7 linked regions of the Homo sapiens genome follow. The protein of the gene in region 4 purifies or fractionates together with the protein of the main gene of each other region. This does not show direct contact. Each region holds a gene or a part of one and is shown on either strand. Other genes may lie near its edges. The genes, in order: HCCS, SGF29, WDR37, TADA1, DR1, INSR and USP22.

Evidence for each region.
Region 1: the proteins of TADA1 (region 4) and HCCS purify together in Homo sapiens (affinity purification with mass spectrometry; 3 studies listed by BioGRID and IntAct, with this or other methods). This does not show direct contact.
Region 2: the proteins of TADA1 (region 4) and SGF29 purify together in Homo sapiens (affinity purification with mass spectrometry; 6 studies listed by BioGRID and IntAct, with this or other methods). This does not show direct contact.
Region 3: the proteins of TADA1 (region 4) and WDR37 purify together in Homo sapiens (affinity purification with mass spectrometry, with the first as the bait; one large-scale study listed by BioGRID). This does not show direct contact.
Region 5: the proteins of TADA1 (region 4) and DR1 purify together in Homo sapiens (affinity purification with mass spectrometry, with the first as the bait; one large-scale study listed by BioGRID). This does not show direct contact.
Region 6: the proteins of TADA1 (region 4) and INSR purify together in Homo sapiens (co-immunoprecipitation; one large-scale study listed by IntAct). This does not show direct contact.
Region 7: the proteins of TADA1 (region 4) and USP22 purify together in Homo sapiens (affinity purification with mass spectrometry; 4 studies listed by BioGRID and IntAct, with this or other methods). This does not show direct contact.

The regions. Positions count from the first base shown.
Region 1 is NC_000023.11:11,109,870-11,114,131, forward strand, and holds the start of HCCS (holocytochrome c-type synthase), read left to right. Parts: upstream 1-1,462; 5' UTR 1,463-1,649; intron 1,650-2,149; 5' UTR 2,150-2,191; coding exon 2,192-2,291; intron 2,292-4,262. UniProt on the Homo sapiens protein: Lyase that catalyzes the covalent linking of the heme group to the cytochrome C apoprotein to produce the mature functional cytochrome.
Region 2 is NC_000016.10:28,581,420-28,584,919, reverse strand, and holds part of SGF29 (SAGA-associated factor 29), read right to left. Parts: intron 8-3,500; coding exon 1-7. UniProt on the Homo sapiens protein: Chromatin reader component of some histone acetyltransferase (HAT) SAGA-type complexes like the TFTC-HAT, ATAC or STAGA complexes.
Region 3 is NC_000010.11:1,101,385-1,104,884, forward strand, and holds part of WDR37 (WD repeat-containing protein 37), read left to right. Parts: intron 1-2,217; coding exon 2,218-2,452; intron 2,453-3,500. UniProt on the Homo sapiens protein: Required for normal ER Ca2+ handling in lymphocytes. Together with PACS1, it plays an essential role in stabilizing peripheral lymphocyte populations.
Region 4 is NC_000001.11:166,859,265-166,862,764, forward strand, and holds part of TADA1 (transcriptional adapter 1), read right to left. Parts: intron 3,149-3,500; coding exon 2,939-3,148; intron 1,074-2,938; coding exon 922-1,073; intron 1-921. UniProt on the Homo sapiens protein: Probably involved in transcriptional regulation.
Region 5 is NC_000001.11:93,366,407-93,369,906, reverse strand, and holds the end of DR1 (protein Dr1), read right to left. Parts: 3' UTR 414-3,500; downstream 1-413. UniProt on the Homo sapiens protein: The association of the DR1/DRAP1 heterodimer with TBP results in a functional repression of both activated and basal transcription of class II genes.
Region 6 is NC_000019.10:7,114,090-7,116,414, forward strand, and holds part of INSR (insulin receptor isoform Long preproprotein), read right to left. Parts: 3' UTR 1-2,325. UniProt on the Homo sapiens protein: Receptor tyrosine kinase which mediates the pleiotropic actions of insulin.
Region 7 is NC_000017.11:21,008,512-21,012,011, forward strand, and holds part of USP22 (ubiquitin carboxyl-terminal hydrolase 22), read right to left. Parts: intron 2,799-3,500; coding exon 2,640-2,798; intron 1-2,639. UniProt on the Homo sapiens protein: Deubiquitinase that plays a role in several cellular processes including transcriptional regulation, cell cycle progression or innate immunity.

The sequences.
Region 1 (4,262 bases), on a different chromosome or scaffold from region 4:
ATGAATAATTTTGAGGAATTGTGACAGACAGAGTCATAGGGAATGATGGAAAAGACAGAGAACTGTGGGAGGAATGGAACTGTGGGAAACAGAATTTTGAGAGATACAAGAATTTGTAGGAAAGAATAAAGGCTTGCTGGGAAACCCAGCAAATTTTGGGAAAAACAACAGAATTACGGGCAAGACAGGGAATTGTGGGACAGAAAAGTGAATTGTGGGAGACACAAGGAATCATGGGAGAAACAAGAGAATTGTGAGCAAGACAAGGAATTGTGGGACAGAAAAATGAATTGTGGGAAGGAATAGAATTTTGGGAGTGACATGGGATTGTGGGAGAAATAAGGAATTGTGGGAGAGACAGAAGATTGTGGAAAGAACTGAGAATTGTGGGAGACAGAACTGTGGGTAACAAAACAGAATTGCGGGAGTGAAAAGGAATTGTGGGAGGGACAAAAGAATTGTGGGTAAAGAGAGAAGTTGAGCTGTGATAGTTGAAATGGAATCCTTGGGCTATCCTGTAGGCAGTTCTGATGCTGGGATGGCCCTTCTGAGTTGTCCCCTTTGGGGCTAGGGGCCTGGACTTATGTGCCCTTGCAGAGACCCTCATAGGATGCAGATCGTCCCCAAGGAGGGGAAGTGATTTTGTGTGAGGCAATTCTCTTAGGCAGAGGACAATTCCTGGAGACTCAGCTGAAAGCTGTGAGCCCCCAACACTTTCTGCACCAGGGGACATCTGGACGTATTTCACAGAGCCACTATAGTTATATAGAAAGATATATGTTTCTTTATTAACACTTTAAGTAACAAGATCAAATTACCTTAATTTCAAAGTAGTGGATGGATGATATTTTGAGACAGGCACAACAACCATATGTGACATAATTTATCTGTAATGTGTATTAGTGCCACATACAGCTAATAGTACTAGGATTTATTGCCTACATCCCTGATGGAAGAAAATGCTAAATTTCTGTTGGAGGTAAATGAAAATACAGACATTCAAAATCACATACCCAGTTAAGAAGAATTTAGCAGCCAGAACACTGTCTTGTTCACTTTTGGATCTCCACCACCGAAGTTATGGGCACCTACTAACGTTTCTTGAATCATTGCTACAATTAAAACCGATAAGATTTAAAAAAAAAACAAATTTAAAAACTCCTCCAAAGCACTCCTTCTGCCGCATAAAGCATACATAGTAGAGCTCTTCACTCTAGGGAAGCCTCTGGAGCAGACAACCTTCCCTGCCACCGCCACATTTTGAAAAAGGCTCCTGGCCTGGAGGGGCGGGCCCAGAAAGCGGCCCCCGCAGCAGTTACAGGCCGGGGCGAGGAGGGGACGGAACCCGCTCTCCGTGATTGACGGAAAATATTACTCTTCAGCCCGCCTCCCGCGTGCCCGGAAGTCCCGCCTTCTAAAAAGGAAGTAGGGGTGCGTGAGAACGCCGGCGGTGACCGCAGCCACAGCGGTGACCGAGTGAGAGGAAGGCGGCGGCGGCGGCGGCGGCGGCGTGAAGTCACTGCTGCTCTGGGTTCGGGTTGGCGACTGAAGGCGGTACCGGCCTCCCGGAACAGCCCGGGGGAGGGCTTAGGTGCAGAAGGGCAGGCTGGCCGCGGCCGGTTTGGTCTGGGGACCACGGGCTGGAGCAGGTGGGCAAGCGCCGGGACGGTGTGGGGAAGACACTTGGCAGCTTCTCGACCTCTGGTGTCCCTTCGTTTCTTCGAATTCCTATTCATGCGCCGCACCCTTCTCGGACCCCCAGCCCCTCGCTAAGGCTCTGGGGATGGGGGTCAAGTCTAGGCTCAATGGACCTCCCCTCCTCCACCCGGGTCACCACTCCTCGGAAATCCTCGCCCCACTCCCGCCTCAGGCCTGTACCTCCTGGCTGTGACGTGGTTTCTCAGCGACTGCCTCACCTCAGTCCCAAAATCCTCACTGCCTTAGATACATACGTGCCCCCAGAGGTTGGCCTGGGTTTCACAGTATTTCCCTAAGGGGGCAATATATTAAAGCTGTCCTTCGAAGTTAGTACCCTGCCTGGTAGATGCCCATGGGATGACAAAGAGGAGGAACAAGGGTTGACCAGATTAGGACTAACGAGAGAATAGTCTGAGTCCAGAGACATTAATCTGTCTCTTTGTTTTGGCAGGTGGAAATTTAAAATTGTTTACAGTCAACACTGTTTCCAGCCATGGGTTTGTCTCCATCTGCTCCTGCTGTTGCAGTTCAGGCCTCAAATGCTTCAGCGTCCCCACCTTCAGGATGCCCGATGCATGAAGGGAAAATGAAAGGTAATCGGCCCTTTGCCTAGAAAATAAAAACAAAAGATAATTCACGGCTGGGTGCGGTGGTTCACGCCTGTGACAGCACTTTGGGAGGCCGAGGTGGGTGGATTGCTTGAGCTCAGGACTTCGAGACCAGCCTGGGCAACATGGCAAAAACCTCCCTCTACAAAAAAATACAAACATTAGCCAGACGTGCTGGTGGGTGCCCGTAGTACCAGCGACTTTGGAGGTTGAGGTGGGTAGGATCGCCTGGGAGGCCAAGGTTGCAGTGAGCCAAGATTGTGCCACTGCACTCCAGCCTGGGTGACAGAGTGAGACTGTGTCTTAAAAAAAGTCTGGAAAGCCTCTAAAGGAAGAGGCAGTGTAGTATGCTGCTGAGGCTGGTAGGCATGGGAGTCAGGCACCCTGGGTCTGGTCGTTATTTTGCGTCTTATTGAGGTTTGTGACTCTAAACAAGTTAACTCTGTTAGCCTCAGTCTGTCATCTGTAAGATGAAGATATAATAATGTTTCACAGGCCTGTCATGATGATTGAGGTAGTACATGAGAACGTAGTGAGTACTCTAAACCAGCCCCAACTTCCCAAAGTTTACTTGTGCCTACATCAGTGGTTCTTAACTGGAGGGGGGCAATCCCCCCTTCCCACAGGGGACATTTGCCAATATCTGGAGGCATTTTTGGTTGTCACAACTGAGAGGAAAGTGAATAGAGGGCAGGAGTGCTCCTAAACATCCTACAATGTACAGAACAGCCCCCCAACAAAGAATCAGCTGGCCCCAAATATCAAGAGGGCCAAGGTTGAGAAACCTTAGTCTAGATCTAGCTGTCTTAATAAATAACTTTTGCTCGTATAGCCATTTCAGTATTTTCGTATATAAAAGTAAGCCATCACTTAACGGGCTTGCTGTCCATTCTTTAGATAAGAAAATGAAAATGGAAAAGCTGTCTTTCATTTTTAATTCATTCATGTCTACTTTAGATTTTTTATATTAAAGTGTGGCTTGAATCAGTAAGTCGTGAAGGGCAGAAGCAACATGGTGTGCTTACTGAGTACTAATGTTTGCGCTGTTATTCATTTCTTCAGTCAGCCAGCCTATTCTGAGAGGTCACTGCCCATTCTGTACCAAGCATTGCTGGATTTTGTTTGTTTCTGCACGAGAGAATAACATCATACAAAATGGAGCTTTGCCTGATAGAGCTTACATTCTCATCTTCATAAGCTATGTGGTCTTACGACTTCATAAGCTAAGTTTTCTCCCTATTTTATAGTCAAGGAAACTAAGACTTGGAGTAACTGATGCTCCAAGTCACATAGTAAGTGGCAAAGCCAGCAAAAGTTCTGTGACCTTGGACAAGGACAGGCAGTGTTCTTCTGGGGTTTCTTTGTACAGGAAGAATTGAGACAGATCAGCCAAAGCAGGTGTGCTCCTGTTCTGAGTGTCCTCAGGGAGATTCTAGAACCCTTACTTTGGTTTTATTTCATTTGCTGTATATCTTGGAGAGCTGCCAGACTTACTACATTAATAAAGAATGTGGGTGTCTATAGGAGATCGAAGGGGCTACTGGTTATATGACGTGAAAAGTTGAAATGTTATTTTCTTTGTAACACCCAGCTGGGATCTATGACTTGGAAAGGATTGGTGCTTTCAGTGGTAGAGAGGAAAGGCATAGCAAGTCTTCCTTCACCCCTAAAGTGGGCAGTGGCACAGGGCACCAGGAAATGAGGGCTTGGGAGGAGAAGTGCAGGGAAGGAAGTGAAAGCAAACTCAGCTTTTTCATGTGTATTGCTGTAGTTGCTGCTGCTGCTGCCTGAGGCCAAGATTCCATTACATGAGCAGCTGTCTTCTGTGTCTCAGCTCTCCAAGTGCCTGCTCATTCTCTGAACCAGTTTCCCAGTCCCTCACTAATTGGGATCAGCATCCTGGGTCTTTGGGCATAGCCCTTGCTATTGCTCATCTCATTAGGCTCAGACCTTCCC
Region 2 (3,500 bases), on a different chromosome or scaffold from region 4:
GCTCTTCCTGTAAGGAAAAGAGCAGCAGGACATGACGGTGGCCCTTTGTGCTGCTGTGGTACCCTGCCAGCCAGGCCAGAGTCCCCATCCCCAAAATACGGCCCTCATTTTCTTTTTTTTTTTTTTTTTTTGAGATGGAGTCTCACTCTGTCGCCCAGGCTGGAGTGTAGTGGCACGATCTCGGCTCACTGCAAGCTCCGCCTCCCGGGTTCACGCCTTTCTCCTGCCTCAGCCTCCCGAGTAGCTGGGACTACAGGCGCCCGCCACCACGCCTGGTTAATTTTTTGTAGTTTTAGAAGAGACGGAGTTTCACCGTCTTAGCCAGGATGGTCTCGATCTCCTGACCTCGTGATCCGCCTGCCTCGGCCTCCCAAAGTGCTGGGATTACAGGCGTAAGCCAATGCGCCCGGCCTAATTTTTTGTATTTTTAGTAGAGACAGGGTTTCGCCATCTTGGCCAGGCTGGTCTTGAACTCCTGACCTCGTGATCCACCTGCCTCGGTTTCCCAAAGTGCTGGAATTACAGGCAAGGGCGCCCGGCTATGGCCCTCATTTTCTAAATCCAAATTCAGGAGTTCAAGATGATTTTCTCCTTTGACTAATGCAAAAGCATTATAAAAGGCCTTAAAGGGCCTGGTGCAGTGGCTTAAGCCTGTAATCCCAGCACTTTGGAAGGCCAAAGTGGGCAGATCACTTGAGATCAGGAGTTCAAGACCAGCCTGGCCAACATGATGAAACCCCACCTCTACTAAAAATACAAAAATTAGCCGGGCATTGTAGCATGTGCGTATAGTCCTAGCTACTCGGGAGGCTGAGGTTGCAGTGAGCTGAGATCATGTCACTGCACTCCAGCCTGGGTGACAGAGTGAGACTGTTAAAAAAAAAAAAAAAAGAAGGCATTAAAGTTAAATCATAAGTGATATCTTTAATGATAGTCCTTTATCAAAGAGACAAATCAATCTATACAGTCAACGCAATCCCCATCAAAATTCTAATTGACTTCTTTGCAGAAATTGACAAGTTCATCCTAAAATTCATATGGAAATTCACGGGACCCAGATTATCCCCAATCTTGGAAAAAGAAAAAAAAAGTTGGAGAACTCATACTTCCCAATTTCAAAATTTATTACGAAGCTACGGTAATCACGATGGTGTGGTACTGGCATATAGATCAACAGAACAGAATTCAGAGTCCAGAAATAGACACATACAGGTATGATCAATTGATGTGGAGAAGAAGGGGTGGGGAAGAATGCTGGTGCAATTCCTCCCATATCAGTCATCCTGGGAGCAGAGCTGCAACTGCAGATGCTGGAAACTGAGACAGATCCTAAGAAAGAAATTATGACTATGCTTTTTAGCCTTTATGTGAGAATTTTTAAGTGCCTGATGGGTGGGTTGCGCCTTTACCTCAACCTGCAAAATGAGGTTAACAGTGAACACAGCTAGCTAGCTGCCTAGTGCTCAAGACAGCCAATAGTCCATACCTGTGTAACCCCACCCTATATAAATGGGAATGGATTGGGGTTGGGGGGGGATACTTGCTAGACTAGTACTGCTGCCGCTGCAATCTGGACCAGGTACAGTGGCCAAAGCTAACATCCCTTACAAAGGTGGAAAAGTTTGGGTGAAAACCAATCACAAATGGAGAGGAGAAACAGTAGCCGAGTTAACAGAACAAATTAAATGGGTTATGCAATGAGGGAAATCCAATATTGTACTCATACCTCAAGAGAGGCTGAGAGAGAGAGAATGCCATCTCTTAGGTCAGTTACACTGGGTGCCTGAAAGGGCGAAGCCCTGTGTCTGTCAGGACCACGCCTGCTTTTGGAAGCTGACGGGTGAGATGGGAGTCTGGGAACTCGGCAGCAGCTGTCTGAGGGACACCCTGGTTGTATGGGATGATGATAAACTGTTCTAACTGTGGATGACTGAATGGAATGCGTAATCTGCCTGTATCTTTTTTTTCCTTTATTTATTTTTTTGAGACGGAGTTTCGCTCTTGTCGCCCAGGCTGGAGTGCAGTGGTGCGATCTTGGCTCACTGCAACCTCCACTTCCCAGGTTCAAGCGATTCTCCTGCCTCAGCCTCCCTAGTAGCTGGGATTACAAGCATGTACCACCACGCCCGGCTAATTTTTAGTAGAGATGGAGTTTCGCCATTTGGCCAGACTGGTCTCAAACTCCTGACCTCAGGTGATCCACCCGCCTCAGCCTCCCAACATGCTGGGATTACAGGCATGAGTTACCACGCCCAGCCCTTTTTTCCTTTATTTTACAATGTATTTTATTGATAAACTCTTCTTAGAGCAGTTTTGGTTTACAGAAAAGCTGAGCTGATGGCACAGAGTTCCTGTATGTATACCTGCTCTGCCCTGCGCAGTCTCCCCTATTGTTAACATCTTGCATTAGAGTGGTGCGTTTGTAACAACTGATGAGCCAATACTGTTAGATAATTAACTACATCCATCCCCATGATGGTTTACTCTGTGTGTTCTGCCGTTCTATGGGTTTGGACAACGCATCATGTTGCGTGCCCCCCATCATGGTACCCTGCAGAAGAGTTCCACCCCCTAAAATCCTCTGTGCTCCACCTATCCATCCCTTTCATCCTATCTCTCCCAAGGCCCTGGCTACCGCTCATCCTTTCACTCTCTAGTTTTGCTTTTCGTTTACAGTTGGAATACACAGCACGTAACCTTTCAGACTGGCATCTTTCACTTAGCAATGAGTGCCGGCATCTTCTGACTCTTACTCTCCAGGTTACGTCTAAAAGGAATACCATTTGGGAAGGAATTTCTGGGATCTACTCCTTCCTGGCTGTGCGGTGCACAACTGCCAGCAAACTGATCCTTGTGTAGCTATAAACCCTGAGTATCGTGGGCAAAATGTGGCAGAGCATGCCCGATAGCCTGCAGTGAGCTACAGGCACCAATACGCATCTCCCTTGTATCTGTGAAAGAAAAGATATCAAATAGGGGAAAAATGGCTTTTTTTTTTTTTGAGATGGAGTCTTGCTTTGTCACCCAGGCTGGAGTGCAGTGGCGCCATCTCGGCTCACTGCAACCTCTGCCTCCCGAGTTCAAGTGATTCTCCTGCCTCAGCCTCCCCAGTAGCTGGGATTATAGGCATCCGCCACCAAGCCTAGCTAATTTTTGTATTTTTAGTAGAGACAGCCAACATGGCAAAACCCCGTCTCTACTAAAAATACAAAAACAATTAGCCGGACATGGTGGTGTGTGCCTGTAATCCCAGCTACTAGGGAGACTGAGGCAGAAGAATCGCTTGAACCCAGGAGGCAGAGGTTGCAGTGAGCTGAGATCGCGCCACCGCACTCCAGCCTAGGTGACACAGTGAGACTCCGTCTCCAAAAAAAAAAGAGTGTTTTTGTTTGCCTGGATTAATAGGGTGGAAGGAAAAGATATGGGGCATTTTTGTTGGGTGTTAAAAATGTTCTGAAATTGATCGTGCTAATGGTTGCACAATTTTGTGAGCTGCGAAA
Region 3 (3,500 bases), on a different chromosome or scaffold from region 4:
AGTGTCTGTGTCCTCATCTCTTCTTACAAGGATGTCAGTCCTATTGGAATAGGATCCACTCTCCTGGTCTCATTTTACCTTAATTATCTCTTTAAAGCCCCTTTCTCCAAACAGCCCCATTCTGAGGTCCTGGGGTGAGGACTTCGACACAGGAATTTGGGTCCACAGTTCTGCCCATAGCAGCCCCTTCCACTGTTCCCTCCGCAGTTTGTTCACACAGCACACACCGGGCATCACATCCTGCCGACAGCCGTCTGGTGATTTTGCATCACACGGAATAAAACCTGGTGTCCTTTCCAGTCTCCCGGGATTACAGGAGCTGTTCCCGACTTTGCCTCCCGTAGCTGTTCCGCACATGGCGGGAATGTTGTTCCTCAGCCCGGGCGAGCCTTACTTAACCTTTCCTTTCCTCACATCCGACTCACGTGCGACCTCATCAGAGAGTCCCTCCTCAGTAATTCTGTGTGAAATAGCGCCCCCATCCAGCTGCCCCTTGTCCTGTTTTATTTTACTTCATAGAAGTTACTACCACCTTACTCTGTGTCTCCATGTTGATTTGTGTTCCCGTGCTGCTCTGCATCCATGTGATATGTGTTCCCGTGCTGCCCTGGGTCCCTGTGACGTGCTTTCCCTTGCTGCTGTGCGTCCCTGTGACGTGCGTTCCCTTGCTGCTGTGCGTCCATGTGACATGTTTCCGTGCTGCCGTGCGTCCCTGTGACGTGTGTTCCCGTGCTGCTGTGCGTCCCTGTGACGTGGGAACCCTTGCTGTTGTGCGTCCCTGTGACGTGTTCTCGTGCGGCTGTGTGTCCATGTGACGTGTTGCCGTGCTGCTGTGCGTCCCTGCGACGTGCGATCCCGTGCCGCTGTGCGTCCCTGTGACGTGCGTTCCCGTGCCGCTGTGCGTCCCTGTGACGTGCGTTCCCGTGCTGCTGTGCGTCCCTGTGACGTGCATTCCCTAGTAATGTATATGTGCTCATGACGTGCCTGTGTTAGGCCATTCTTGCATTGCTATAAAAAATACTTGAGACAGGGTAATTTATAAAGAAAAGAGGTTTAATTGGCTGATTCTGCAGGCTGTACAGGAAGCGTGGCACCAGCATCTGCTTGGCTTCTGGGGAGGCTTCAGGGAGCTTGGAGCTTTCACTCACAGCAGAAGGCGAAGCGGGAGAAGGCGTCATGTGATGGAAACAGGAGTAAGGCGGGGGCGGGGGGTGCCCCACATCCAAGCAGCCAGATCTCTTGAGAGCTCACCCACTATTGTGAGGTCAGCATCAGGCTATGAGGAATCCTCCCCCATGAGCCAGACACCCCCACCAGGCCCGGCCTCCAACACAGGGGATTCCAGTTCAGCATGAGATTTGGGCTGGGACAAATTTCCAAATTATCAGTTCCAGTACTAGTACTTGTGTATATATGACATACCTCTCCATACTAACGGGTGTGTGTGTGTGTGGTCTCTCTCTTTTGCTAGAACAGAAGTTCTCTGAGGGCAGGGGCTTTACCAGGGGTCCTCACTCCAGAGTTCCTACCTGCTAGATTGAGCGTAGTTTTGCATGTGTGCATGTCAGAAGCCGTCTGTCCTCTTCTGCATTGTGTAAGCAGCACCTGGGCTGGGGGTGGGGACTGGCACTCTGTCACCCCCTGATAAATATTTGTTGGATGAATATACAGATTTTCTTACAGAGCTGGCTGTAATGTGTTTGTTTTAGCCTTGGCCTTTGACAGGGGGCTTGATGTTACAAAGGAAAATAGACTCTTATGACTATAGCAATAGAATTCCAAGTATATTTTAAATAGGCTCTTGAGAATGAAAATGCCTTTTTGTAATGTGATAAATTACTGACTTTCATTTGTATTTGGTTAGTTTTATATTGCATTTCTACTAGTAACTGATGAAAGCTTAAATGTTGAAAATCATTTTATTTGCCATTCTGTTGATGCGTGGAAATAAATGGTAGTTCGGTTGACAATGTTGTGGATTCCACTTTTTTTTCTGTACGAGATGGTCGTAGAGTTGATGGGTGTTCACGGGCAGCAGTTATGGGTCAGAGGAGGACATACTCATCACTGTGGCCAGCACCAGGCTCCTAGTGGTGACCATCATGATGGATATGTCCTCAAGAGATTAATGAGAACCATCTATTTTGTAGCTATGTCAGAAGAAACTCAAGATTTCCAGGAAATGTCTTTCTTTTCTGGCCTTCCCTTTGGCAGCAGATATCTGGGGAAGATGAAGTAGAGTGCTCTGACAAGGACGAGCCCGACCTCGATGGGGATGTGTCCAGCGACTGCCCCACCATCCGCGTCCCACTGACATCCCTCAAGAGCCACCAGGGCGTGGTCATCGCCTCCGACTGGCTGGTTGGGGGGAAGCAGGCTGTGACTGCCTCCTGGGACCGGACGGCAAACCTGTACGACGTGGAGACGTCCGAGCTCGTTCACTCTCTGACAGGTGCCTGGGTTCTCTGAGTCCGCCGCCTCCTGGCTGTGCATGTTAGTTTATGTCCATGGGTTATGTCTGACCTTGCCACTTACTTCTTGACCAGAATGAGTCTCTGTGTTCTTGGCTCTTCTGTGGTAATTTTTGGAGATTCTTTCTATTAATAATAGAACTATTGGTAGCTAAATTTATTTTGTCTTCAGGGGTTTTAAATTGTAGCATGTAGTATCTAGATATTGGACATATGGTAGTTGTATTAGTTTTCCATTGCTCTGTAACAAATTTCCACAATCTTAGTGTCTTAAAACGACAGGAATTGACGGCCTCATGGTTTCCCAGGTCAGTAATTCTGGGCCCGTGGTAGCTGCTCTTCTCCCTGGGCCCTCAAAGACCTAAGTGAGGGTGCTGCCTGGTCAGGACCTCCCCAAGGCTGCGGTCCTCTTCCAAGCCTGCTGGTCATTGGAGGAGCTCCTTCTTGCGTCTGGAGTTTGAGGCCCTGTCTTCTTGCCAGCTGCCAGCCGGGGCTCCTCTGGGCGTGCAGAGGCTGTGTCTGGCCCTGGGGCCCCTGCACAGGGCTTGCCTTTCCCACACAGCAGCCGCTTTCCTCTGCAGCTGGAGCTCCCCTGCTGCTCTGAACTCTCCAACTTCTGGGACCCTTTTTAAGGGCTAGGCCAGACCACCCAGGACAATATTCCCTTTGATGAAGTCAAAGTCAACTCATTTAGGGACCTTAATTACATCTGCAAAATCCTTTTTGCCTTATAATGTATCATAATTACCAGAAAGATAATCTCATCCTATTTACAGGCTCTGCCCTAACTGAAGGGAAGGGTGTTAGGCATGTACGGGGTGGGGGTGGCTTGGGGCCATCTTGGGATGCTGCCTGCTGAAGTTGCTTCTGCGAATCTATCTCTAAGTGCATTTCCTGCATGAGCGTTAAAGATTGTATTTGACTGAGGACCCATAGCGTTGTATCATTAGAAGGTATTCTAAGCAAAGAATCAAGATTTAAGTGGTTCTCACATTCAACCTGTTAATTTGCCTGACCTTCTAACTGGTA
Region 4 (3,500 bases):
CTGCCTTCCCTTCCTGTTACTTCACCAATCACCCTGCCACCCTTCCCAGTCATACATACTTTTTTCTCTGAACTTGCAAGTCCCAGTTATCTCTTTACCTCTCTTCTCCCAAACTAACCAGATACGCAAAGTCCAGCAAATCACAAGAAATTCAAGTCACTTCAGTAACCATAAAGAAAATTACATTACTACTTTTTTTTTCCTTTCCCAAAGGCTTAAAATTCAGACTAAATTCCCTTTGGGGGAAGTGGAGGACAAAAGGAGATGGAAGGATAAGAAAGACAACACAGGGATGAAAGTAATCTAGGTTGTTTCATAAAGGGGTGACTCAGGACATAGAGACATCCTGAAGCCCTCAATGGGAAGACGACACAGGAATCCCAGAGGTGAGCTGAGAGACCATGTCTGCACAGCAGGAGGCCAAAAGCAAGTGATGACACCAGGCACAGACCACTATCTTGAGCTATGCCTACAAGAGCCAGATGAGGGCCTGGAGAAACATCTACCACTCCTCCTCCTCCTCCCACCACCAAGACACCCAGCTGTGACCCAACAATCACAGGCCCTGCCTCTAACTGAAAGCAGGCTCACTTCCCCACTGGGCAGGTGATGCCCCTCGGGAGCCCTCAGGATGCACCACCTATGCACTACTCCACTGCACCTAAGAAAGTCGGGGCGGGGGGACAAGCACATTAAACCCGCATGCAGAAGCCAAACTCTGCAACTTCACTTCTCATAAAAGGAGTACCAAAATAATTCACTAGATCTCAGGCAAGTATAGGACTTTAAAAAATAAAATTGTACTCCTATTAAAGGTACTTAAACCTATGAAAACACAATCAATTATTTAACAATGGTCTATAAGAGGAGTATAAACAACTAGCAAAAGATGGAAAGAAAATCACAAGAAACTTCATTTACCTTTCTATTAAGTTGTTGTAAGCTACTACACTATTCTTCAGGTATGGCTGCGGGGTCACGTTACTGCCAAAGGCATATTTAAAATGACCATCTCGTAACCGATAAGCTTTCCTTCTTGACACAACTGACGTCAGTATATCTTTAAGGTGATTCTGTAAACATACAAAAAGAAAAATAGCATGATATCCTCTTTAAAAGCAAATCATAAAACTTCCACTGACCAAAAAACATTTATTGGCATTTAGATGGAGATGCAGAATAGGTTAGTATATGCTAGAACCAAATGAATGTTCACATGAAGAGCCACGGAGCCACACCAAAGGAGTAGGAGGGTATGGGAAAGAGGGGGACATGCTTATTTTCATGTATTAATAGTTCTCTTTAAGAGGGGCTTGCTATACATGAAATTTGAAAAGTCTTTACATCTCTAAATTGGCTCCTCTCTCTCAAAAATGAGTTTTAGATGGCTTTAAAAGAAGTACACAAAAATGACTTTTTTTTTTAGATGGATTCTTGCTCTATTGCCCAGGCTGGAGTGCAATAGCACGATCTCAGCTCACTGCAACCTCTGTCTCCAAGGTTCAAGCAATTCTCCTGCCTCAGCCTCCCAAGTAGTTGGGATTACAGGTGCCCACCACCAAGCCTGGCTAATTTTTTATTTTTAGTAGAGGCAAGGTTTCACCATGTTGGCCAGGCTGGTCTCGAACTTCTGACCTCAGGTGACCCGCCCATCTCAGCCTCCCAAAGTGCTGGGATTACAGGCATGAGCAAAAATGACTTTTTAAAAAGAGACAAACTATGCTGAAACTTTGTTTAAAATAGGACAAAAAGTTTTAAGATCTGATATTATTGGAACCAAAATCCTTGCGTGAAAAGAACCTTGGCTCTCTCAAAAGCCACATAAACAACAGATATATAGGAAATAAGCACAAAATAAATTAGGTACTTGATTTCTCTTCACTTTCATGAGAGCCAAGTATATAAGAAAAGGTTGAGGAAGCCTGTGAAAATAGAGTGACAGAACTCGTCCCAGGCTACCATTATTAATAGGGGAGCCAGCATCAGGCAGGGTGTTTCAATTATACCAAGGAAAATCCACTTATATCAAGACATTATTGTACTATTTAAATTGGTTTGCACGCAGAATTCATTTAATGTTTATAACTTCATGGGACAACTGTTATTATTTTTGAAGTACAGATGAAGAAAATAGGGCTCAGAGAATTGAAAATCCAATGTCACCTGACCATACTCGTGCATTATAGACCCCATCAAATTAGTTTTGTCAAGTAACTAAATGAATAAAATGAATGGACAAATGAAATCATGAGCAGAGACAAGAATTCTGCTGTTCAGATGCCAAGACTAATACTCTTCAGTGCTGTATCACAGCAAAAACAAGTGACTTTAATCTATAGGATTCTCAATTTCATTTCTTTCCTTAAAAACCATTCCCCTGTTGACAAAACATCAGATCAACCAGAAGAGTTATGCCATAAATAACCTTTCTGAAAAGCTTAGTCTATTAACTGAAGACAACTATTTGGATTATAATGAGTTTCTCCTCTTAAAAGAAAACAACTTTTAGCCAGGTGCTATGGCTCACACATGTAAATCCCAGCACCTTGGGAGGCCAAGGCGGGAAGATCACTTGAGCCCATGAATTCGAGACCAGTTAGGCAAGAGAGAGAGACCCCCATCCCTAAAAAATTTTTTTTTTTTAAATTAGCTGAGTATGGTGGCGCACGTCTATACTCCCAGCTCTTGAGAGGCTGAGGCAGGAGGATCGCTTGAGCCCAGGATTTCCAGGTTGCAGTGAGCCATGATCGTGCCACTGCACTCCAGCCTGGGAGACAAAGTGATGCTGTCTCAAAAAAAACAGAAAACAACTTCAACAATGACAATTCTGTGAAATCAGAGTGACATTTGGATTCTTTTCTTGCAATACCGACTTTAAACAACACACAAGCCTATCACATTCAACCTGTAAGATTATTTCTGCCAACAGCAAACCAACCTCCACAGCATAGACAACAGCTGAAACAGCCTCCTCGGTGACATTGTCCAGCCCATGCTCATAAGCAGTCACTATCATTCTCCCTTCAAGCTGGCCTCGAGTGGGAAGCATCATTGTGTGGGAACAAAGTTTCAAGTCGTCATCATCTTGGGGATCCTTTGCCACAAATTGCTGGGCTCCTGAGAGAGGATTTTGAGGCTGGAATCTATGCTATGAGTAAGAAAAACTTTTTAAAATTACTCATTACAGTAGCAAACAAGACACAAAGTAAACTCCTGTACTGAAGTTGAGATCCTCCAAATTAATGCCACCAAAACTATACCACAGGGGTTAAGGGAAAAAAGAGTTAATTCATGCACAAATAATCACAGATTCACATCCAATACAAGGTAATAATGAAGACATGGATTAAGGGGAATAATGGTAGTTTGCGTAGTAGTTTATTCTATTCAATTAATACCTTGGTGATCACAGAATGTATGGCACTGTGTTAAAAATAACTGAAAGAGAAGGAGAAGTATTGAACTATATTCAAACAAATCAGAGCATTTTAAATCTAACC
Region 5 (3,500 bases), about 73 Mb from region 4:
ATCCTTAATTTCAAATTAAGAACATGATCTTCAATTTCATTTATAGTAGTTATGGCTCATTTAAATCCTAAATAATGAGCCATAGCTACTAATTTATTTATTTTGCCACGTCCATTGCTAAAGTAGCTACTAGATGTTATTTCCTATTTGCACAACAGTAGGTTTGTTACTGGGATATGGAAAACAGGGAACTTGCAATTTAGAAAAACGCAATTTGGCCTTGTTTTTATTTTATTTTTACTCACCACTATACTAAAGGTGATGGGCTTGTTTTAAAGAGAAAGTGTACTCCAAAAGATTCCAAAATTCTGCAACATTTGGATAAGGATGAAACTAAAACCTGACACCAGGTCACTTTTTCTATAAGCTTTCTTTAGTATTTTGACCAAAAGAAAAGACATATGTAAAGCCTATACCACAAATCAACTTTATAAAATAACTTCTCATATTCTGCATAACACTGAGTGAATCATTTAGACAACAGTGGACAGAAAAAGGGAGCTGAAAATAGTAACAGACATTACCTCTGCTTCCTTAGAATGAGTTCTACAATTACCTTGCAAAAGCACACAATTTTGCTATCCTCAGGCAGGCTTATAATTTTTTTAAAAGATCTTCAAATAAAGGTCATTTATTTTAGTATTTGTTCCAGTATTTCCAGAGTATTTTTGGGGAAAAAAGTTCTAGTGGAAGAAAAATAGTTTTCATAATTACTTACATTGGGGTTCAAATCCTTCACTTGTTAGATGTTATTATATTACAGTCATCCCTTGGTATCCGCCAGGGATTGGTTCCAGGATACCCCAAGGATACCAAAATCCAAAATCCAAGGATGCTAATCATCTCTAGATTATAATATCTAACATAATGTAAATGATATATAAATATTGTTATATTATTTTTAAAATTTATACTATTTCATTGTTGGGTTATTTTTTGTTTTTTCCCCAAATGTTTTCAATCCATCAGTCCATGGTTGGTCGATCTATAGATGTGGAACCCCCAGACACAGAGGGCCAACAGTACTTAATTTCTTGGAATCTTAGTTTCCTCACTTACAACATGTTTATAATAAAGACAGACGAAATTTTGTAAGGGCTACTAGTATATGTGTAAGGCAACTGCACATGAAAACCTAACACTATTTGGCTTAGAAAACATACTCTATCCTATGTAATATACCAAATAAGTGTTTTGGAAATAAATACCATTGTTCTTCATAGCTTAACCACACTACTACACCCTACTACATGGATTCTAGAAGTTTATTAGTGACATAAATATGAAGTTAATGGCATCTTTTATAGGCACAACAAAAGAAACAAACGTATTAGAAGGTATTTGCATAATCAGACCATTTTGAGCCTGGTATGTTTTCCCCAGTAATTGGAGCATCCTTAGATGCCTTAACAACAAGGACAGTTTCTCCATCCTTTGCTGCATACATACTTTCTAATACTATCTCTCTCCTTCCACTCCCAATTCCTAATAAAAATCTCTGATTCACATTAAAAACTTATTCTGGCAAGTCTCCCTCTTCCACCTCTACTGCTTTCTATGTTAGTGACAAGTGCTATTCATATAAAATATACAAAGGCAAGAAACATAAAGTTAAAAGGAAACAGTATGTACTATTCTTCATACTCAATACATCATACATAAAATACGGAGTTTCATAAGTAAAACAAAATACTGCATACTGTATGTCTATTATTTTTAATGGTGTGCCTGTGTTACCAGTCTATGACTGGACTATCAATACTTACCCTCACAGAGGAAATAAACAAATGAAATAACATATGTAAAAAAACTATTACAAAAAGAGTTGATCCTCATTGTTCATATCACATACAGCAGGTCCTCAACTAATGTAATTTCTTTTTTTGTTTGTTTTTTTGAGACGAAGTCTTGCTCTGTTGTCAGGCTGGAGTGCAGTGTCGCGATCTCAACTCACTGCAACCTCCGCCTTCTGGGTTCAAGAAATCCCCTGCCTCAGCCTCCCAAGTAGCTGGGACTACAGGTGCACACCACCAAGCCTGGCTAATTTTTTGTATTTTAGCACAGATGAGGTTTCACTATGTTGGCCGGGATGGTCTCTATCTCCTGACCTCGTGATCCACCCGCCTCGGCCTCCCAAAGTGCTGGGATTACAGGCGTAAGCCACCACACCCGGCCTGTAATTTCATTATAACATTGATGAAAAACAATTATTTACAACCAGGGCCACTGTCTGTGTGAATTTTGCATGTCCTCCACATATCTGCATGAGTTTTCTCTGGGTATTCTGGTTTCTTCTCAATTCCCAAAGATGCACGTTAGGTGAATTGGTACAGCTAAATGGTCCCAGTATGCGTGTGTGTGCCGTGTGAGTGCGCCCTGTGATGAAAAGGCATCCTGTCCAGGGTTGGCTCCCACTTTGCTCCCTGAGCTGCTGGGATAGGCTCCAGCTACCCAAGACACTGAACTGAAATAAGCAGGTTGAAAAACGAATGAATACAAATTACTGTAAAACGAAAATTTGTAAAGTATATAATAATCATACAAATGCACAATAAATGATGCAGTATGAAAGCACTCAGCAAGCCCACTTTATTTCTTATTTTTTGTTTTTGAACTGCATGGTGGTAGGAGGTGCTCCTTAAAATTTTCACTTCCCAACAGTTATTCCTTGATTTAACCCACTAGCACTACAACTGCTGTCACTCACTGATTCGCCAAATATTGGGTAAATAATTTTTACTTTTTTTTTTTTTTTTTGAGACAGGGTCTCATTCTGTCACCCAGGCTGGAATGCAGTGGTACCATCACGGCTCACCGCAGCACCGACTGTGGGATTGTTTAATGCAGGGTTTATCAATAACAACCCCATAAACATTTGGGGCTGGATAATATATATATTTTTTTTGAGATAGGATTTTGCTCTGTTGCCCAGACTGGAGTGCAGTAGCGTGATCATGGCTCACTGCAGCCTCGACCTCCCAGGCTCAAGGGATCCTCCCACATCAGGCTCCCGAGTAGCTGGGACTACAGGTGCAAGCCACCACCTCTGGCTAATTTTTGAATTTTTCTGTAGAGACGGGTTTCACCATATTACCCAGGCTGGTTCCGAACTCCTGAGGTCAAGCCATCTGCCCACCTCGACTTCCCAGTGTTGAGATTACAGGCGTAAGCCACCATGTCCAGCCAATTCTTACTTGTTTTTATCCTTTTTAAATGTATATAAAGCTCATATTAATCTCAATGTTTAATTTTAGAAGTGTTTTGGGTCTTTATTAGAAATTTGGTAGTGTTTTTGTAACCAGAAATATATGCCATAGGGACTTAACTCTTATTTATATCAGTTCACCTATGGTAAAATTGATTTCATTATATGTTGTTTTTCTTAAACTCGCAGTTTCCCAGAACCTATCAACAACATTGAGGACTTATTGTATTATAAATTATCTTTATATGAATATAAAGACTTTCCCTATTTCAATTGCGAATATACAGATCTGTGC
Region 6 (2,325 bases), on a different chromosome or scaffold from region 4:
GGGTTTTGGATTGGAATTTCCCTCACATGCTCCCATCCCACTTGGAGAATTTAAAAAGACATTGCATTAGGTGTTTGTGTGTAAGGTGCATCACCAGCCTGAAAGGAGTGGGCATAAACCATCAGGGAGCCCAGGGCACCTTTGTGCTCACTTCAGGGGGATTCCATGGAACAGGTGGGAATGCTTGCTCTGAATCAAAGCCCGTCTTTGCCCCGGCAGCCATCTCTCACCAAAGGAAGGTACACCTTGCTGGGTTACCCCATATATCAGATACATCATGACAGCCTGGAACTTAGTTTATGTTTGGGGAACATAGTGACAATAGATGGAGGATTTTTTTTTAAAGGAAGATTAAATTCAGAGAAGAATATTACCAGCCAGGAAGAAAAGGATCTATGCTCGCATAAAGGCCATACCTTCTCCATCCCAACTCCCTCCCTCAAAATTCTTACTGGTCCCTGGCATTCGAATCAGCTGATACACACGTTCCCTGATTCAGACCGGTTCCAGGTAGAATTCTGAAATCTCAAAGATGTCCATGATTGAATCACATCTTAACAATACACTGAGGTAGACTGTGCTGAAAAAAGAAAATCACTATCCCCCATTCACCTGTTTATTTTTCTTTGATAAAAATTTACATGCGCTCCATTTTTTATGAGAGTGATTTTCAGAGTGATTTTATATATTAAAATAAATACTTTTTCCCCTAATATAAGAAAAACCTTTCTGAATTAGAAAAATGTGAAAATTGCAGCTAGTGTAGTATACAACCACTACAAATTTACTAAGAAGAGAACAAAATACCTAGTTCTACGTGTTTTTTTTTTAAATTTAGGTACAGACCCTCATATTTACAAAATAAATTTGGCAAAAATAATTTCTGTACTCTTGCTTCTTGTACCCAATCACTGAGGCTCCTCAGCAATATTTTTACATGCTGTATTTTCCCGAATCATATAAATAAGATAGCAATAGACAATTGGGATTCATGTCTACCTGTGTTCTTAATCAAGAATTGAGAGGGCTTGGAGGTTGCCATTATGACTCTATCCCATTCTTAAGCCCACAACTCTTAAGAGAAGAAGAAAAGGAAGCAGTCAAAAAGTTGTAAGAAAATGCACTCAGGAATAACGCATGGGCGATGATTTTTTGATGAACCAAAGTGATGAGTTCACTGTGTTCTTTGAGCAGCTGTGGTGGTTCTTTTTGCAAAGAGAAGAAACGGTGGATTCACGCCCATTCGGAAGTTCTTGGTGGTGTGTAAGGTCTTTTTCACGGTTTCTCCTCCAGACTCTACTCTCTTAGGGATTGCAACACTGTAAGCACCTGAGCATTCAGCTCAGGCACCACACCTGGCCCAGATGAGGTCACCGGGCTCAGAGCAGCTTCCGGGAGTTCAGTACTGAGGACCGTCAGATGCTCTCAGGGTGGAGGGGACCAAGACGTACTCTCAGTGCACCTCTCTCTTACATTGCTTAGATGTTCCCAAAGTCCATCCAGGTTGTTGTGCTTTGGGATCTGACGTTCTTGGGTTTGCACAATAACGGTTAGGATGTTCACACCCGGGAGAGGAAACGCCACAAGAGGTACACACAGAGAATCAGAGGATGAACACAGGTGTTCTTGAAGGCAGGCTCAGAGCTAGGTAGCTACCAGCTTATCCGAACAGGAACCTTCCAGCAGACCTGGTACCTGAACCAGACCATCCATAAAACCTAGTCTCTCACACACTCCACGTGGCCTCACAACATCCAAAAGTGTTAGCAGCGAACATGGCTTCATTCCCAGAAATGGATGCCTTTAAGACCAAACAAAGAGGCCACTTGTGCCTGACTCCCTCCCCTTCCCGGCCCCACAACAGGCAGACCAACTCATGTCCCCACTCCCCGCCAACCCCGGGGAATAGTCAATAACTTATGAGGCTAATACCAGAGACTTTAAAAATTAAATATGGTACAAATATATTCTCAAAACTCTGTCATCTCAGTTCTTTTTTTTTTTCCTTTTTCCATTTTGTTTTTTCTTTCTTTTTCTTTTTTTTTTTTTAATGTCCTAGCTTGGTTTGGTCTTGAAAAGATTCATAATCACTCCAAATGAAATGCTCCTCCCTTGGCCACCAATGTGAAGGGAGGGTAGAAACCTGAGGCTAGACTTCTGACACAAGAAGAATCTGTCGAGAGCACAGTCTCCCAGTCAATAAGAAGGAAGGAGAGAGGGGGATGAGCTCGCACCCTTGAGAAGAACCTTCATGAGCCAATTCCCAAAGCATCAACTCCGCATGGATACTTTGCACACACATCAGCCGTGTCTAATGGACACACA
Region 7 (3,500 bases), on a different chromosome or scaffold from region 4:
CTCAAAGGGTTCCGTTATATCATTCAGTTGACATGACATTCTGGAATTGTCAGGCGTATGGAAATGCAGGAGTCCAGGGTGACTGCGGTTACAGAGTGGGTGGTGAGGGAGGAGGCACTGGAGATGCTGGGTACTTTCCGCATGAATGTCTGAATCCTGGCCAGGGCGTCGCACCACAGTGCTGAGGAGGTCACCATCGGGGGACCGGGGTAAAGGGTACCTAAAGGCTTCTTACAACTGCATGTGAATCTACAATGATCTCAACATAAGCAGTTTAATGTAGAGAGGTGAGAGGTCGGCCAGGTGCGGCAGCTCACACCTGTAATCCCACCACTTTGGGAGGCTGAGGCAGGTGGATCACCTGAGGTTGGAAGTTCAAGACCAACCTGACCAACATAAGAGAAATTCCGTCTGTACTAAAAATACAAAATTAGCCGGGCGAGGTGGTGCATGCCTATAATCCCAGCTACTCAGGAGGCTGAGGCAGGAGAACCGCTTGAACCTGGGAGATGGAGGTTGCAGTGAGCCGAGATTGTGCCACTGCACTCCAGCCTGGGCAACAAGAGCAAGACTCCATTTCAAAAAAAAAAAAAAAAAAAAAAAAAGGCAAGAGGACTGGGAAAGGTAATTTCCTGACCGTGCAGAGGCAGGAGGTAGGAGGGCTGCATCAGAAGCGTGTCTGGCACAGGTGTCAGCTGCCACTGACAAAACCTGCAGAACAGATGATTCAACAAAGCACACGCCAAATTTTGAAGCTGAAACACCAGCAAAAAATTCACTCTTTTCACAAGCAGGTATGGAAAGCCCTTATTTATGCTCTGGAAATTCTGCCATCTTAACTAGGGCAAGACGAGGGGGCCTCTGGGCAAAGCTGCACCTGTTTCGTTGCTAGCTTTGTGATCTGCTCTCCAAAGGACTCGAAAAGGAGCCTTTGCTTGCAATACAAAGTGGGGACCCGGGTGCACTCTACCTCTCCTCCACCTTCCCGGGAGTCAGCACCACATCATGTCTCTCCTAACAACACAGGCTTCCCACACATTGTAGTTTGTGAAGTGTGGTTTCTACCTCATGGCCTGCTGTTTTGGCAAAGCTTTCATTTTATTGGAATTTATGATTAAATTTAATTTAGCTGCAAAGACTTTCTTTAAAAAGGTTTTGGTTGGCCGGGCATGCTGGCTCACACCTGTAATCCCAGCACTTTGGGAGGCCAAGGCAGGCGGATCACCTAAGGTCAGGAGTTTGGGACTACCCTGGCCAATGTGGCGAAACCTAGTCTCTACTAAAAATACAAAAGTTAGCCGGATATGGTAGCAAGCACCTGTAATCCCAGCCACTCGGGAGGTTGAGGCCGGAGAATCACGTGAACCTGGGAGGTGGAGGTTGCAGTGAGCCAAGATCGCGCCACTGCACTCCAGCCTGCACTCTAGAAAGAGCGAGACTCCGTCTCAAAAAAAAAAAATTAAAAAAAAAAAAATCACAAAATCAGCTGGGCATGGTGGCACACACCTATAGTCCCAACTACTCAGGAGGCCGAGACAGGAGACCAAGGCTGAGCCCTGGACACTGAGGCTGAGCCCAGGAGATCGAGGTTGCAGTGAGCTATGATGGCACCACTGCACTCCAGCCTGCATGAAAGAGCAAGACCCTATCTCAAAAAACAAAATAAACATGCAACTTTGGTCGTGCTGACTATGCAGCCAGACAGAAACCAAAGGCTCGTACCTCTTCTAAGGGATACTTCCACTCAACAAGGACTCTTCTGCATTACCTTTAATTGATGCAAATAAAACAAAGGCTATAAAATAATAGACAAATTTTAGGAAGGTTTTCTGCTGTCTTTACAATTGTATGCTACAGCTACTTAAATACATTTTTTTTTAAAAATCACTCACAGGTGTGGTGGCTCATGCCTGTGAGCACTTTGGGAGGCCGAGGTGGGTGAATCACCTGATATCACGAGTTCGAGACTAGCCTGGCCAACATGGTAAAACCCCCGCTCTACTAAAAATACAAAAATTAGCCAGGCGTGGTGGTGCACACCTGTAGTCCCAGCTACTCAGGAGAATCACTTGAACCTGAAAGGCAGAGGCTGCAGTGAGCAGAAATCGCACCACTGCATTCCAGCCTGGTCGACAGAGCACAACTCTGTCTCAAAAAAAAAAAAAAAAATCACTTTGTAAATATTATTACTTATCCCAAATGAAGCAGTACATGCACAATTTCAAAAACAGCCCTAAGAGTACAGAACATCACAACTAAGTTTTAATCATGTGCAGAGAAGGCCGTGGACCATGGGGAGAGGCCCGGGCGCATCTCAGCTCACACTCCGGGGTAGGTGATTAGTGCAAGGGCTAAGGGAGCAGCCAGTTTGGCTCTGGGTTCATTTACATGCGGAGGTTGGAGTAGCAGCTGCTGACACTGACACCTGGTGCTGTGCGAAGCTGGGGGACAGAAATATTGAGTCATCTGGCCAAAACAAAGGACAAACTAGCACAAGAGACTGCAGCCAATCCAGGCTCATGCTGCACCTTTGCCCAGGCTCTGTCCTGGGCATGTGAAAGAGCCCTGCTTTGGTCCTGATGGAGCACAGCCTTCTGGCCAGGAGACACGCCCCCGCCGTGTGGGTGCAGGCCTCTCACCGTCGCAGGCAGTCCGTGAGCGTGGTGGTTCCCGACACGTGGCTTTCCCCGTTTACCACGTTGCCCTCGCTCCCTGGGCTCAGGGGCCAGAATGGGGTGGAAGAGCCGGGGAGATCCAAGCTGATGTCCCAGAAGGGGTCGATGGTGGTGGAGACTCCACTGGAAGCAGAGGGAAAACAATGGCTGTGAGGACTGACACCCACCCAGCTCCAGAGGCAACCCGGGGTGGAAGCCGTTCCCACATCCCTTCCCCGCTGTGCCCTTTGTCACAGTGACACTCAGGTGGGATGGGGCAGGAGCAAGAGCAGCAGTGCTCACACCCAACGTGTCCTGGCTCCCAAGGTGGCCCTGGGGAGGGGTGTGTGTGAACTCGGAAGGCGAGGGGCGCTCCTCAAGCAAGGACTTCCCAGTCTGGAGACCATCACAGTCACTGAGGGACTTGGGAGGAGGATAAACTCATGGGCCCTGTCAGAGGCTCTGAATCCACAGGTCTATCTCAGCTGCATCTAGAACTTGGGGCCTGTGACCCTAGGCAACACTGGAGACCCCTGCACATTTCACAGAGCGTGCCCAGGCCAGGCCCGGTGGCCTGCACTGGACAGTCAATGCTGCATTTCACAAGGCCAGTTCCTTGCTAGAAATTTATTTAACAATATAAAAAATGAAAACTTGCAGACTGGGAAATTTACTCTCGATATTTATACAGGATTTAAATCTTGAGACAATCTCCTACTAATGGAATTCAGTAGTTAAGGGACAGCGAGGAGGTCCAAATTGCTCAGAGCAAACTCGGTTTCTAATACTCAGAGACAAGGCCCCAAACGGTCTATGCTCCTTATAGAAAATGGCCCCCGTGACACA